Linked DNA regions of Homo sapiens: region 1 is reported to be linked to region 2. Evidence: microRNA targets listed by miRTarBase, many of them from high-throughput screens and not tested one by one. Region 2 holds a microRNA gene; the other region holds the end of a gene's coding sequence.

Evidence for each region. The annotated mature microRNA hsa-miR-1229-5p reads GUGGGUAGGGUUUGGGGGAGAGCG and lies in region 2 at 1,197-1,220, opposite strand. An mRNA with a match to its seed (bases 2 to 7 or 8) in the 3' UTR can be bound and repressed. Matches are read on the target gene's strand: a 7mer-m8 pairs with bases 2 to 8, a 7mer-A1 pairs with bases 2 to 7 and ends in A, and an 8mer does both.
Region 1: miRTarBase lists HOXA7 as a target of hsa-miR-1229-5p. Seed matches in the 3' UTR shown: 7mer-m8 at 755-761.

What each region holds. Positions count from the first base shown.
Region 1 is chr7:27,151,513-27,155,512 of GRCh38, reverse strand. It overlaps HOXA7 (homeobox A7), which reads left to right. Exons shown (of 2, transcript NM_006896.4): 2 at 291-1,797. The coding sequence ends at 604. It overlaps HOXA3 (homeobox A3), which reads left to right and starts at 2,930. Exons shown (of 6, transcript NM_153631.3): 1 at 2,930-3,225. It overlaps HOXA-AS3 (HOXA cluster antisense RNA 3), which reads right to left. Exons shown (of 3, transcript NR_038832.1): 2 at 3,832-3,938; 3 at 1-3,219. RefSeq lists an enhancer at 410-994.
Region 2 is chr5:179,797,127-179,801,274 of GRCh38, forward strand. It overlaps MIR1229 (microRNA 1229), which reads right to left and starts at 1,220; the gene lies at 1,152-1,220. It overlaps MGAT4B (alpha-1,3-mannosyl-glycoprotein 4-beta-N-acetylglucosaminyltransferase B), which reads right to left. Exons shown (of 15, transcript NM_014275.5): 5 at 3,781-3,827; 6 at 3,358-3,471; 7 at 3,058-3,133; 8 at 2,828-2,942; 9 at 2,380-2,510; 10 at 2,077-2,184; 11 at 1,802-1,995; 12 at 1,387-1,465; 13 at 1,221-1,308; 14 at 1,039-1,151; 15 at 484-942. The coding sequence ends at 919.

The DNA.
Region 1 (4,000 bases), not on the chromosome of region 2:
TCAGAGGAAGCAGGACATTGTGGAAGCTTAGCCGGCTGGAAAGGTCGGTTGTAAAGTTGAGATTCTGTGCCTTTGCTCATTACAGAGCTGCCTGCGCGTCTGGCACTGCAGTTGGGGTCTTTCCCTAACACTCCCCCTCCTCCCCTAGCTCAGTTCGGGGCCTGGGGCAGAGGGGGATGCTCGCTGGGGACTAGGCCAGGAGGAAGGTGCGGGCTCTGGGACAGCAGCCTAACGAGTGCCCTGTCTACTTGTCTGTCCTTGTGTTCATGTGTCTGCATGTCTGTTCTCAGGACCTGACAGGAAGCGGGGCCGCCAGACCTACACGCGCTACCAGACGCTGGAGCTGGAGAAGGAGTTCCACTTCAACCGCTACCTGACGCGGCGCCGCCGCATTGAAATCGCCCACGCGCTCTGCCTCACCGAGCGCCAGATTAAGATCTGGTTCCAGAACCGCCGCATGAAGTGGAAGAAAGAGCATAAGGACGAAGGTCCGACTGCCGCCGCAGCTCCCGAGGGCGCCGTGCCCTCTGCCGCCGCCACTGCTGCCGCGGACAAGGCCGACGAGGAGGACGATGATGAAGAAGAGGAAGACGAGGAGGAATGAGGGGCCGATCCGGGGCCCTCTCTGCACCGGACAGTCGGAAAAGCGTCTTTAAGAGACTCACTGGTTTTACTTACAAAAATGGGAAAAATAAAAGAAAATGTAAAAAACAAAAACAAAAACAAAAAAGCAACCCAGTCCCCAACCTGCACTCTACCCACCCCCATCACCTACTCCAGCTCCCAACTTTTGTGGACTGAGCGGCCGCAGAGACTGGGTCGCCTTGGATTCCCTCTGCCTCCGAGGACCCCAAAAGACACCCCCAACCCCAGGCCAGCCGGCCCTGCTCTGGCGCGTCCAAAATACTACCTAGCACAGGCCTCTGCTCGAGGCACCCCCAAACTACCTATGTATCCAGCCCCAGAGGGCCTCCATTCCCAGGAAGTCCCTATGTATCCCAACACTGGCAGACACCCAGCACCACCCTCCCAGACCCGCAAGAAAGTGAATCTCACTACTACCTACTCCCCTAAAACTACCTATTTTGTGCTGGCTGGCTTGCCTGCTACCTAGTGCCGACTGCTCCCAGGCAAGTCCCCTGCTGCTTACAGCCCGCAGCTTTTGGGGTCCCTGAGGCTGCCCTGAGAATGTGCTGAGGTCCAGGATCAGGGTATTGGCATCTATTTAAATCGAAAAATAATATATTTATTCCAAAAAGCATCCTAAGTGCTTGCACCCTAGAATCAATCCCTCCTTCTCTGGCTTGGCACCCACAGCTCAGGCCCATCAACCCCCACTTCTGGAGGGGAATGTTCCTGAGCTGGCTGCAGATCTGTGGGTTAGCTTCTGCTTAGCAGGACTGTGGAGATGCTTCCAGCTTCGCTGTCCTTTCCTCTGGCTCCTGTATCTTACTGTTCAGCTGTGTTAAATATGTACGCCCTGATGTTTCCTATAATAGCAGATACTGTATATTTGAACAAGATTTTTTTTTATCATTTCTATAGTCTTGGAGTTCATTTGTAAGGCAGTGTCTTGACTTGGAAAGGATGTGTTAATGGGGTGACTTTGTAGCATGGTATGTTGTCTTGAGTTAACTGTAGTGGGTGGGGAGGTCCAATGCCCTCCGCAATGCCCTTCATCTCCTGTGTTGTCCTGTACCCTGCTCAGCTCCATCCTGGGGTTCAGGGAAGGCACACTTCCCAGCCCAGCTGTGTTTTATGTAACCGAAAATAAAGATGCGTGGTGACAAAGAAAAATGTGGACTGCCTTATCCAGAGGGGACTGGGAAAGGGGAGGTGAGTATGGCTGGAGGGCAGGGGGCAGTGGGGAAGCAAAAGTGGGGTGGCTGTCCTTGTGATGGTCCAAGTGTTGGGTACCCATGTATTGGTGTCATGTATCTTTTTAATGTATTTTTATGTGTGTATTTGTATGAGTATGTGCTTATTTTTCTGTGTATGTATTTCTGTGTGTGTGTTTTTACCTAATTCCACAATTGTATATATTTTGGTGTCCATAATTGGGTGCATGTGTTTTTGTGTGTCCATAATTGCATGTCATTCTGTGCCCACAATAGAGTGTATGCCCTTCCCTGTGTGCATAATTGTATATGTGCCTTTATCCGTGTAGAGACGTTTGTCTGGTTTTTGCGTGTGCACTAACATCTTCTAGATCCCTTGAAAACGGAATCTTTGGTAGATACGTTATATTCTATGAATCTACCTAAAAACCTCCATCAATTCCATGAGGAAATTTCAAATCCACACTTTCCTCTAAGGCTGAGCAGTGGGCTTGGAAAGGGGCATTACCCAGAGCTGATTCCGGATTCGCATGCGCCCTGAACCCAGCCCCAGGCTAGGAAATGGGATTTAAGGTCCCCACCCCGCCTGCAGACCAGGCGAGGGGGCCCCAGGGTCCGGCACTGCAGTAGGTGGCGCGGGGAGGGGCTAGGACCGCAGACCCCCGCTAGGCTACGCAGCCTGGGCAGGGGCTGGGGCAGCTGGATGCGGGGAAGGGGCGAGGGGTGAAGGTCCAGGGGTTGTGCGGGCAGCTCAGAGCATCCTGAGTTCCGCCTGCAAGACCTCGTCTCCAGTCTCCTGCCTGGGCTGGGCCCGCTTCTTATGGCTCTTTTAGTAAAACCTGGCCCAAAAGGGTCTGTAAAACCTGAGGCCCCAAGTCGGGGCGGCCTCGGTGGTAAGATGGCGCCGGTGTAAGAGCTGCCTCCTCTCAGTGATGGGGAAAGGGTCATAAATCCGTTGTTGTTTATGAAAATTTACAACTTTGCAATACAACTTTATGAGTTGTTCGGCCCTTCCATTGGCCGCTGTCGGTCATGTGGATGAGAACCGTGAACATGAACTTTTTTATAATTTCCCTTGCGAGAATAGAGCCGCATTCTTTTGCTCCGCTCCGTCCTGCCTGCTTCGGAGCTCTGCCTTCCAGCCGGGCTCGGCTGTGCTTTGTCCGGAGATGGCGAGCGAAGGGAAGCCCCGGCCAGGCCAGGCCTGGCGGCTCCCGCTGGAGATTGGGCGCGCTCCGTTCCCGGCGCCGCGGCAGCAGCTTTGCAACTCGCAACCTGGCTAATTTCCTGCGTCCTCTGGCACCAGGAAAGAGGACAATTCTTCTCTCGGGCTGCCCAAGCGACAGCTGTCAGAGGGGCAGGAGCTTCTGGGAGCCACCGTCTGAAGGTGAGACATGTGGGGAGGAGATAGGAGCAAAGGTGGTGAGGCGACAGCCGGCGGCGGTAGCGGTGGGAGAGGGCACCCAGGGAGGCTTTAAGAGGGGCATACTCCCCCTTACCCATACTCACCCATTCACACTTGCCCCCATCACACACTACAGCCCACACACGTCACACACACAGGCACACACGCGCGCACGCACACACACACACACACCACTCCCTTTCTCTCCCCTCCCTGGCTCGCCTTGGCAGTAAGTGCCCGCCTTCCTTCGGCCCTCCGTGGCACAGCGCCAAGGCACAGGGCAGCATCCCTTGGGTCGTCTCTCTCCCCTTCCCTAGCGACCCCGTGAAGCCCAAAAGGAAGTGGCCCGGCACACTGTGTTCCCCGCCAGCCCTTTGGGTTTGGATTTTTGTGTTTTCATTCATGGCCCTATTTGGTTTTGTTGGATTCCCCAACAAGAGGAGACCATCCTTGACCTGGGAAGGTGGGAAGAGGTGAGGGCAAAGTGCATTAATCCACAGGCATTTTATTAGCATCAGCACAGCACTTTCTACTCCGTGGGAATTGGTTTCAGAGAGAAAGGTAGAAGGGGGAAACAGAAAAACTTACTAATTCAGCCAGAGTTCTCCGCTCGTTGCCGGCTTCCCTTCGCCCGGTTTTTCGATGAGAGAGGTGTCTGAAGCGCTGGGAGGGGGAATAGGTGCGTGGGTGGAATTCTGTGTTGGAGGAGAGGATGGGATTAATTGGGTGTTACTTGGTGGGAAGTTTCGGTGCAGAG
Region 2 (4,148 bases):
TGTGTGCAAAGGCCCTGAGGTGAGCGGGAGACCCTAATGTGCCAGAGGAGTGTCGGGGACCCAGGATGAGGACCAAGCTGAGACACACGGAGGGGAACAAGGAGGCTGGGAAATGCCTTCAGCTTGAGGAGCTAAGGGAAGGCCTCATCGCAGGCCTTGGACATGGGGGAGACATTCGGGGGACCTGCTATAGGCATTGTGGTCCCAGATTCTGAGCTGGTTTCACCAGTGACAGACTTTGCGGCCTGATCCTAGGAAGGGGGGTACGCTGGCGCCGAGGTGGCACTGCAGCTGCACAGCCAGGGGCTGGACCCCGCGCCTGCAGGCCAGGCTGGCTCCTTGACTTAGCAGGGAAAGGTCGCTGCTGATGCTGGCTGGGGAGGCCCAGTGCCAGGCTTAGTTGGCATGTTGGGGCACAGACCAAATGAAGCCAACCGCAGGGGCAGAGGGAGATGCCCAGGGCGCTCACATTTGAGGCACACACTTCATTAACCCTTTATTACAAGTCACGCTCTTATAGAAGTATATGTGGACTTACGTGAAAAAATCAAATGTATCCAAGAATAAAAAACACAGCACATAAAGTAGTATATGCATTCCAGTGTTCGCGCCAGAGACGGCGGGCGCCCAAGTAAAAGCTCTTCTAAAACGGCCTGACTGGGGCAGGCCGGGTGCGAACGGTTCCGGGCCTCAGGCACAGTGTGGGGGCCGCCTGCCTCCTCCGCGGCCCGGCGGGCGGGGGCAGCACCAGCTCCTAGGGCCTCCGGGCCAGCGGCGGACCCCAGGCCGGCCCAAGCCCGACGCCAGGCAGAACCCTTTGGGCGGGGCCGTATCTGGCCCTCCGGGGACGGCAGTGACGACACCCCCAGAAATGTGGGCTTCAGGGCTGGCCACAGGGTACCCTCAGAAGCCCGCAGCTTAGTCGGCCTTTTTCAGGAAGATCTGGAAGAGCCGGACCCAGGGTCAGCAGGGCCTCTGAGCTCCGCCAGGGTCTCCCTGGCTGCTCCCCGTGCCTGGCCTGGCCCTGCCCAGCCTCACCTCGCTCAGAATCACCCACACAGGGGAGTCCGTCTGGATCGAGAGGCGCAGTGCTTCCAGAGGGCCGAAGGCTGGGTCCACCTCTCCCTCTGCCACTCCCTTGTAGAAGGAGCCTGTGGGAGGGCAGTGGTGAGAGGGTGTCCCTGAACCCCAGCCCACGCTCTCCCCCAAACCCTACCCACCGATCTGGAGGTAGCCGTCGGGGCTCCGAGGGTACCGGAGGGTGGCGGTGCGGCCCTCCTGCAGGGCCTCCTTGTCTGACTGAGGGTTCTGGGGGCAGAATCAAGGGCTGAGGCAGGTGGTCACAGGAGGCCCGGCTTCAGTGCACACCACACCCACCGAACTTACGTCGAAGGGCAGCACCTCCACAGACGTGTTGAAGAGCTTGTCCTCCGGGTGCTCGATGTTCCCACTGCGGAAGAAGAACCTGCAGCCAGGCAGGCCTGTGAGCTGCTGCAGGGGCAGCGTTCCAGCACAGCACCCAGGGCCCAGCAGAGAAAGGCCAGGCCTGCGCCAGGAGGGCCCCCCAGGCAGCTGTCAGGCTGTGCAAAGAGACCAGGGCCTTCCTCTGGGAGGATGGTGACAGGAAACATCCCTGAGCTCCTAGGGGCTGCCTGACTTAGTCCTCACAAGGTAGCTACCATTACGAGGCCCACTTCAGATGCGGAAACTGAAGAACGTGAGGATAACTTGCCGGTGAAGCCTACACCCTGGGGGCCACCCAGCCCCGCCCCCATCGCAGACCCATGGTGCTGGCACTGACCGCTCCAGTCTTAGAGGTTGGAAGAAGCGGAAGCGGATGAAGTCCCCCGCGGCAGGGGTGAAGGCCCAGAAGAAGTCCTCGCGCAGGTAGGCTTTCTCCAGGGTGAAGTGCTGGTATGTCTTCAGGCTCGTGCTCACCTCTGCTGGCGGGTTCACATGCTCCTTCCGCAGCGCCTGCTTTCCAAAGTCTTTGTCCTGCAGCGGAGGAGGGACAGCAGTGATGGCGTGGGCCCCGACCTTGATCCCGGCCTAGGGAGAGCGTGCAGTGCAGCCCACCTTCAGTTTCTGGATCTTGCCAGCCAGCGAGGAGTGAGTGCCCACGTGCTGGAAGAGGGACGGTTTGAAGCGGATCCGCAGGTTGGCTTTCTGCCGGTCACAGTGCTTCTGTGGAGGGTGGGCAACACCCCAGGGCTCGGCTTAGCCCTCCTTCCTCAACACGGCCTCTCCTGGGGACTACCAGGGCCCTCCCACAGCTGACAGTGCTCTATGTGAGCAGATGCAAGGACAGGGACACAGTTTGGGGTGGAGGCTGCCTGCCCCTTGGCCCTGCCCCTGCCAGTCCCGCCAGCTCTTGCTCACCGCATCCTTCTCGGGGTTGCAGACTTTCACCCACAGAATATGGTCCAGGAGCCAGTCGATGGGCTTGTCCCGGTAGAACATGAGAATGAACTCTACAATCAGGCTCAGGTCCAGCGACTTGAACATCTTACCTGGTGGGGAGGGGCCTGAGTGGGCAGTGCTGCTCTGCCTACTTCCTTTCTCCCTGCAGCGGCCCCCGAGTCCCACAGCAAACCCAGGGGCAGGCTTCAGGCAGGTGTGGGCATAACGGGGCAGGGAGGCAGACAGGTGATGAGGGCAGACATGTCTGATGCACAGGCAATGAGAACAGGCCAGGTGGGGCTGTAGCACGCACACCAGGCAGGGCCCACCTGGGCAAAGGCTCACAGTGGACACAGTGGGACTGGGAGAGAGGATGGCAGAGGCAGGTGGGACTGAAAGGCACCGTCAGGTAAGGGGAGGGGCACACCAATGAAGCCCAGCTGGGAGAACTCCAGGATCATCCAGTCCTCTGAAGGCTGCTGCAGTGCAAAGTTCTTCATGGTGCTCAGGTAGTTGGGCTTGGCCACGATGTCATCCTCCAGCTGCGAGGTGAGCAGAGAGGGGCTGGGGCTGAGGAAGGGCACCCAGATGGACCAGACCCATCGCAGGGCAGGGCGGCGCAGGGCAGGGCAGGGCAACGCAGGGCTTGGGGCTGACCTGCACGTAGTAGATGCCTTTGGACTGCGCGTACATCATGAGGAAGCAGTAATCGAGGTTCTGTTTGGTCCTCCACCTGTGGGCCGGGGCGGGGCCTCAGAAGTTCAGACCCCTCCACCTCCATTGTGGCTCCGCAGAGAAGCCGCTGGGTGGGCAGCTTCTGTCCCCCCACCCCCATGCACGGGTCCTCCCATGGAGAATTCAGGGCACTGCAGGGAAACACCCTGGACTCAAACACCAGTAGATGGGTTCTCAGCACAGGCAGGCGGGTTGCTGAGGGTATGGGGGAGTAACTAGTACCTGACTCTCTCCTTGGGGTCCCCAAAGGACTCTCGGAGGCGGGAGAAGTCAGGGTAGAAGTGGGGGGAGGGTGAGATGACCTCCAGGAGCCCAGAATGGATCTCCGTGGGGAACCTGGGGGACGGGAAGGCCTAGTCCGTATGCAGCCTCCAGGGGCTGAGAGGGGCCGAGCCCACCAGACTGTGGCCCTTTCTTGAGGCTCACCCAGTGCCAGCCCCCCACCACCCCCTACACCCAGCCAACTGAGGTAGCAGAGCTCCAGAGGGGCTGGGCCACTTCTGCACACCCACCCCTCCCCCACCAGGTCCCTGCCTCCCCACGAGATAGGAAAGGCACTATCTCATGGGGAGGCAGGAACCTGCCAGCACAACACCCCGCACCGAGCTCTCCCGCCACCAGCTCTCTGGGGTCGCCAGTACTCACAAGGCCTTGATGTTCTCTGTCACTGCCGAAGTGTACTGTGAGTCAGTCTGTGGGGAGACCAAGCACCCTCCCTTAGCCCTGCTGCTGCCCCAAAAGGCCTGGAAGGGCTTGGAGAAGGGGCACAGGCTTCAGATGCCCCCCACGTGGAGGGAGTGAGCCTGCTGTGCTGAGGGCGGAGTAAGGGGGCCCCCAGAGACGGCCCTTTCCCTTTGGGACTCGCATGGCCAAGGACTAGGGGGTGGCGGGGGCGATGGGTAGGGGTAGAGGGTGCCAGAAAGCCCTTTCAACTTTCTATCTCGGAGCATTTGCGAATGAAACTAGCAACTGAACTTCCGACAGCTTTCTCCTCGGAATGGTTCCTGCTGTCA